Homo sapiens: one gene and its partner. Changing the gene in region 1 together with any one later gene gives a genetic interaction. Each region holds a gene or a part of one and is shown on either strand. Other genes may lie near its edges. The genes, in order: CCT8 and ATG10.

Region 1 (3,829 bases):
GCTTCATAATATATGCACATATATCTTCATATTTTTTTGCCAAACCTTTATTTCTTCAGTCAACTATTATCTAATGACTTTGAACACCAACGTAGTGAAATGATTTTAAAGGGAATGTTTACTTGTTTTGCCAGGGAACAGTGTTGATAAAGACTGCTGAAGAATTGATGAATTTTAGTAAGGGAGAAGAAAACCTCATGGATGCACAAGTCAAAGCTATTGCTGATACTGGTGCAAATGTCGTAGTAACAGGTGGCAAAGTGGCAGACATGGCTCTTCATTATGCAAATAAATATAATATCATGTTAGTGAGGTAAGAAAAAGCCGATTTTTTTTTTTACCTATATCATAAATGGTTTTTTGGTGGTGAAAACACTAAACGAAATAGACCATGAAGACTGTTAATAAAGGGAAAGTAAAGGTACTAGGTCAAATAGCAGAAGGATTTAGTTTGGGGAGGGGTCAGGAAACACCTCTGAGAAAACATAAATTTAAGCTGAGAGCTTGAAGAACCAATTACCAGATAATTGAAGAGGGAAAAGCATTCCAGGCAAAAGGAACAACTTGTCCAAGAGACTAGACACAAGCTTGGTGCATTGCCTATCAGAGTATGGAGTCAGGAAGATCCCTTTTAATCCATGAACACATTTATGGTGCACACTAGACAACTTAACCCATTTCTACCTACCACCATCCCTAGTACCTAATAAAATGTGCAAAATAAATCACTCTTGTTCACAGAACATTGATTGCACAAAGTAAAGCAAAAATTTTCTATATGCTGTTGAGTTTTGTAAGGGTTTCTCTGGTGTTTTAGAACTATAAACCACTGACATCCTAAAGTGACTTCCATTCTCCCAATTCTAGAACAATGCCATACAACACAGGCTTAAGATGTGGTACTATTGGCCAGCTGGACTCACTCAGAGAGTCAGGAATCAGCTTCCTGGCCTTAGTGTTCATTGCAATCCAGACATGTTCTGAGTTAAAATCCATTGTCAAAGGAATGTGACATGGGGGCTGGTATACAGGTTCCTCTTTAATTTGAACTTTATATGCTATCTGAAATTGATTAAAACTTTTATTAAGGTCTTTGTGTTTTTTAAAGGCTAAACTCAAAATGGGATCTCCGAAGACTTTGTAAAACTGTTGGTGCTACAGCTCTTCCTAGATTGGTATGTATTTTGGAAAACACTAAAAGATAGTTGAACAAGATGGAATTTTTATTACAACAGTCACTTTCTTACAGACACCTCCTGTCCTTGAAGAAATGGGACACTGTGACAGTGTTTACCTCTCAGAAGTTGGAGATACTCAGGTGGTGGTTTTTAAGCATGGTATGTAGGAATGGTAAAACATGTTTAAGTGTAGGGCTTTAGCTTCTTGTATTTAATCACCAAATATATTTAATTTTTTGATAGAAAAGGAAGATGGCGCCATTTCTACCATAGTACTTCGAGGCTCTACAGACAATCTGATGGATGACATAGAAAGGGCAGTAGACGATGGTGTTAATACTTTCAAAGTTCTTACAAGGGTCAGTATCAGCAATATTCTTAGTAGTTTGTAAGGTCTGAGTAATTTGTATGGTCTTAAAAGTACAGTTTGCAGACTCTTGCACATCATGAGAACTTCAGAATGAGTGGTTTATATGAAATGAAGCACCTGTTTTTGTTTTTACCTAAGACTTAAGTGTCCATTGTTAGTGAATATGATAGTTTCCAAAAAAGATTGTACAGAGGAGTTAACAGCAAAACAGAGCTTTAAAAAAAATTGTTTATCGTTGTTTTCCATTGTAATGTACTGTTAGTTGCTAAAGCAGTTCTTAGTGCTATATCTGTGGATATGCAAAAATGATACGGTACTATTCCCATTCTTCACTTTGGTCCTTTTCATACACCAGACACTGTGCACTAAGAAAATTTGCCCCACCCACTCATTTTTACCAAATTTGTAATATGTATTTGAGTAACAATGACTGATAAAAACTCCTGTTTGGTGGGGTACTGGAATGTGAAAAGATTAGAAAACTGCAAACTGATTTTTAGTGAATTTGTTTTGTGTTCATTTTTTTTTTGGTGGGGGCGCTACATACAGGATAAACGTCTTGTACCCGGAGGTGGAGCAACAGAAATTGAATTAGCCAAACAGATCACATCATATGGAGAGGTACAGCTTTTTCTGTATAAATTGACTTTCTTTCCATTGCTTGAATAAAAGACAGTAATTAACGCATTTTTGTTTTAGACATGTCCTGGACTTGAACAGTATGCTATTAAGAAGTTTGCTGAGGCATTTGAAGCTATTCCCCGCGCACTGGCAGAAAACTCTGGAGTTAAGGCCAATGAAGTAATCTCTAAACTTTATGCAGTACATCAAGAAGGAAATAAAAACGTTGGATTAGATATTGAGGTATTTGAAAAAACACTGAACTTAAATTGCTTTATTTGGGGAATGCACAACCTAAAAATAGTATGAGTTTAAAAGAAATATCAATGAGAAACAGTGTTCTGATTTGGGAGCAGATTATTTTCTTAGTTTTTACATAGGTTGTCTGATGGAGGAACGTTTCATTTTCCTTCTGTTTTATTGATAGTCTTTTGTTCTGTAGTGTGTAGTCAGCCCAGTTCTGTATCCATTGATTCAACCAACCACAGATTGAAAATATTTGGAAAAACTAAAGACATTTAAAAATACACTATAACAACTATTTACACTATGTTATATAATTAATCTGGAGACGATTTAAAGTATATGAGAGGATGTGCATAGATTATATCCAAACACCATGCCATTTTATGTAAGGGATTTGAGCATCCACAGATTTTGGCATCCTTGGAGGTGCTAGAACCAATCCTCACATACTAAAGGATGACTCTATAAGGTAGGACTGTGCTTGGTTACTTTCCAGTACTATTTAAGGAGCTATGTGAGGCTTTTTGTGGGTGTAAACATTTTCACATAAAAGGATTTTAAATGAAAGGATGAAAATTGTGTTTGACAGGCTGAAGTCCCTGCTGTAAAGGACATGCTGGAAGCTGGTATTCTAGATACTTACCTGGGAAAATATTGGGCTATCAAACTCGCTACTAATGCTGCAGTCACTGTACTTAGAGTGGATCAGGTGAGCAAAGTGAAATTTTGATCTTTAAAAATACTCATTTGCATACTGTTTAATAGTATATTTTCCCAGAACTAGAACATAGCATAGTTCTAATTCAAAGGATTCTTAGTCCTCACCTATTAGAGATACTATGTGCCCCCCTCCAATTTTTTTCTTCTATTATAAATTGTATTGAATATATAACTTTCAAACCTTTTAGCCTTAGAACCCATTTGTACAAATAATTTAGAGAGTAAATTTAATATATAATACTAACATGGAATTTGGAAGGACCATAAAGCTCTCAAGCAGACATTGCAGACCACCAGCTTGAAGGAAAATGGAGTCTCTAGCTGTCTGCAGATAAGAGGACTGGGCATTGAAAATTTTTTCTGCTATGACAAATTACAGCTTGAGATACTAAAAGATGTTAAAGGTGTTTAAAATCATATTTCTACCCTTTTTTTTTTTTTTTTGAAGAATTGTGGTAGACTGTTCTATATATAGAAGTAAACCTGAAATCATAATTATTTTTCCAAAAGGTATTTTCTGGCAAACTTAATTAAATACATTTCCCCACAAAATTCTAGAAGTAATTAATAAGCAATGACTATTTATAAGTACTTAATAGAAAATTTTAATTTGCTAGAGGGACAGTATACATCCATTAGGTAAAAGTCATATGTCATATTAAAGGTGGAGTAAGTCCTAAGTAGAAATCAGTGG
Region 2 (3,829 bases), on another chromosome or scaffold:
TTTCACAAGAAATACAATAAGGCTATTTGCATTTCGATAAAAAGAAAAATGAAAATATCTCAGAAAACCACTCAGTCATTAGTACCATAATAAAATTTGGTTCAGCAAGATTTTCAAGTCAAGGTTAAAGTCCCCTAAGGAATAAGACCCAGATCCAGCATATTTTCAAGGGAAAAGGGGCTAAAGGCAGAGCAGGCAAAGAGGTCTCCAATCAAGTATTAAGCAGCCTGGGGCTAGGGCTATATTCAGGGAATTTTACTTGGAAAAAAAAATCAATAGACAACAGAAGGCATCTGTGGTATTCAGGTCCAAGAGAAACCAAAAGTATGACGGCTCACTACAATCTGGAGTCAGAGTGGATCTTATATAACTTTACCACAATTCTTGCTTTCAGTATTACAAAGGAAAATACCTCCTTCTCCCCCTACAACAGGCCCAGGATCCAATGGCAATTGGATCTCTCTCCAGTGGGAAGAAGTTTGAAGTTTTTAAAATATTTACTTAACAGAATTAAAGTATTTTATTTCAATATGAGTGCCATATAATTGTGGTGCTTCCATAGGATGGAATGCGATGGAGTCATTAAAGTATACATTTTTAAATGTATACTTTACGGAGACTGAAAAGAACATGATGCATTAAACTACTCACCTCCATGGGAAGACATGTCTGTCCATGGGTAGATGCTCCTAGATGTGACATCACAGACCCATTCTTAATTTGAAAGTGTATTTTGCACATGTAGCCATCAGAACAGTCCTGTGTTTCATCACCAAAAAATATATAAGAAAATGCCAATTATTTTAAGAATTCATCATTTTAAGAACCACTTCCCATAAGTTCCAAACTGATCAGTGAAAAACTAAATGTACTAAATGAGACTATATGGATAAAGAGACTAGTCCAACACCCTGTACGTAGTAAGTACTCAATAAATGCAAGTTTTATTCTCCTACCTCTCTTATTTATTAATGATGTTTCCACCCTCCTAGATTAAACCTTTCCCTTTTTTCCTGACTAGTCCATAGCACCAAGATCACAGAACAAAACTTAAGCTTATAGAAATAGCTTGTCACATAATTAATATTGATTTTCATGGCATACACATAGAGAACAATTTTAGGACTTGAAATAGATCTTGAAGCTGCAAGAAAGCTTCCATTTCAATTTCTTTCTCAAGGCAAGATCTCTATGAAAATGTCCCAGAAAGGTACTTATGCATCTCAGCAACTGCCTGAGTACCTCCAGGAACTGGCCCTTGTTACTCCCTTACACAGCGGTCATTTCCATTTTAGTGCATTGTACATTAAGAAAGTTTTGTCCTGTATTTCACATCCTTTAACTTACTTAGTTCTGCCCTCTGAAGTCTAATCCCTTTTCCACACAGCTGTTCTTCCAAGCGCTGAAGAAATGACCACCATTTGCAAATACTCCTTACAAAATATGGTTTCTGAGCCCTTTACCAGTATTTGTCTCCTGTTTCTTGTACTTGCTCTTAAATACACTAATGAATGATGTTCATCTAATTGTGGCCAGTTCCATTTTTTTAAGGTAACACTTTTTTGAATTCAATAAAGTCATGTGTAAGAATATAATACCTCCCCAAGAACAAACATACATGCCAATAAATATTAATTCCCCACCACATTGTCATACCAACATTTACATTTTAATAGAATTAAAATAATAAGGACTAAGGGGTTAATCTTCCTATAAGAAGAGGGAAATTTGGATGCAGTGACACAAACAGGGAAGAAAGCCATGTGAAGATGAAGACTGGAGCGGTGCATCTAGGAGCTAAAGATTGCCATCAGCCACTGGAAGCTAGAAGCAGTAAGGAATGGTCCTTCCCTAAAGCCTCTGGTGGGAGCAGGACCCTGCCAACATCTTGATTTCAGACTTCTAACCTCCAGAACTGTGAGAGAATAAATTTCTGTTACTTTAAGTCACCCAGTTTGTGGTTCCTTGTTATAACATTCCTAGGAAACTAATACAGTAACTCTATTTTTTAAGACACTTGACAGCACCTTAAGAATGCCTCCCAGTAAGTTGTGCTGACAAACAGCCAGCTCTCACTCAGGGGGCTGCACTGGTTAGTTGTTGATTGGTTAGATCCAACTCATTCTGATTGGTTGATGCCTCTGTCACAGGTTGCTAAATATTTTTAATATCATTCCTGCCTGGAAAGTAGGCCATCAGATATCCAATACTGTCATTTTTAATTATTTCATTAAGGATATCCATTTTGTAGATGGAATTACTGTTTTAAATTCCAGCTCTACACTATCTGACCACAAAGCAGATCCTGTAATGGTCTTCTACCATTGAAACCTTCGTATTTAGAAAAATGTAAATTTAACATTGGCTTAAACTGAGAAAGATATATGTAATGACTGTTGTCATTGCCACTGTTTCACATCAAACATCCATTCTTCCTTCTTTTGGAGCAGTAGTCATTGCTCCTCTAAGGAACAATTGCTCCTCAATTCTCCTGATTGAGAAGGGAATGGTTCCTTAGAGGAGCATTGGCTACTGTTACACTAATTACAGCTCCAGGGATAGACACAGATCTCTGATCCTGCCCATCAGTACTGCCGGCCCCAGAGACTCTGGAGGACAAATGATTACAGCTCCAGGGATAGACACAGATCTCTGATCCTGCCCATCAGTACTGCCGGCCCCAGAGACTCTGGAGGACAAATGATCTACATCACAGCCAATGGGATGAAATTCAGGATTTGGTTTTGGGGGGTTGGGAAAGGTGGCTGTTCTCTTCTCCACTAGGTTTGAGCCAGACAGACCACAAAAAAAAAAAAAAAAAAAACCTGGCAGCCATCATGTAATTAAACGAAGTTGGCTCTGCAACTCAGAGGAAAGCAAGACCATGAGATACAGAGAAACCACATTCTGACTACATTATTTACACCAACCATATCTGAAACTAGTTCTATCTCAGATTTTTCAATTACATGGCCCCAAAAAGTCCCTTCTTTGCTTCACCCAATGGGTTGGGTTTTCTGTCACTTGCAACCAAAATAATTTTGCTATTAAGTAACATAAATTTGTGTTTATTAGTTTAAAAATAGAAGATTTCTATTGTATTGTCAATCTTGAGATAGATAATCAATAGTTGATTATATAAAAGATTTACCATATACAGTCATGCATCACTTAACGGCAGGAATACCTTCTGAGAAACACGTCATTGGGCTATTCTGTCATTGTACAAACATCATAGACTGTGCTTACACAAACCCAAATGGTATGGCCTCCTACATACGTAGGCTATAGACATAGTTGCTTGCTCCTAGGCTGCAAACCTGTACAGCATGTTACTGTATTAATTGCAGGCAATTGTAACAAAATTTGTGTAAAATTTGTAAGTATTTGTGTATCTAAGCATATCTAAACAAAGAAAATGTACAGCAAAAATACAGTATTATAATCTCATGGGAACACTGTACATGTGGTCTGTTCTTGACCGAAATGTCATTATGCAGCATGACTATACGGTAAAACTATAATAGCATGTGTTTGAGAGAAAAATTACCCAAAGTCTGCAATTTCAAAATGATCTAGCCATAGAGATAAAAACCAAAACTCTCAGGATATTCAGAGAACACGGAGCTGCACTGTGTGTACTAAATATAGCTCATTAAATGAGGGTAACTGCTCTATTTTGTATTTTTCAATACCTGAGCCCTGGTCACATAACCTCCTCTTAAGGGAACATAAAATTTAGTAAAATTCTAATAACAATGCAAAATACATCTCCTTTGACATTAAAAGAGGTGAGTCAAAAATTCGTGTGCACCTATGTTATAAAATC

What was found.
Region 2: of CCT8 (region 1) and ATG10, changing one enhances a phenotype caused by changing the other (phenotypic enhancement), as found in Homo sapiens cells (one large-scale study listed by BioGRID).

Annotation. Positions count from the first base shown.
Region 1 is NC_000021.9:29,059,836-29,063,664, reverse strand, and holds part of CCT8 (T-complex protein 1 subunit theta), read left to right. Parts: intron 1-134; coding exon 135-313; intron 314-1,108; coding exon 1,109-1,175; intron 1,176-1,249; coding exon 1,250-1,337; intron 1,338-1,421; coding exon 1,422-1,537; intron 1,538-2,097; coding exon 2,098-2,169; intron 2,170-2,247; coding exon 2,248-2,412; intron 2,413-3,004; coding exon 3,005-3,124; intron 3,125-3,829. UniProt on the Homo sapiens protein: Component of the chaperonin-containing T-complex (TRiC), a molecular chaperone complex that assists the folding of actin, tubulin and other proteins upon ATP hydrolysis.
Region 2 is NC_000005.10:82,055,425-82,059,253, reverse strand, and holds part of ATG10 (ubiquitin-like-conjugating enzyme ATG10), read right to left. Parts: intron 760-3,829; coding exon 652-759; intron 1-651. UniProt on the Homo sapiens protein: E2-like enzyme involved in autophagy. Acts as an E2-like enzyme that catalyzes the conjugation of ATG12 to ATG5. ATG12 conjugation to ATG5 is required for autophagy. Likely serves as an ATG5-recognition molecule. Not involved in ATG12 conjugation to ATG3.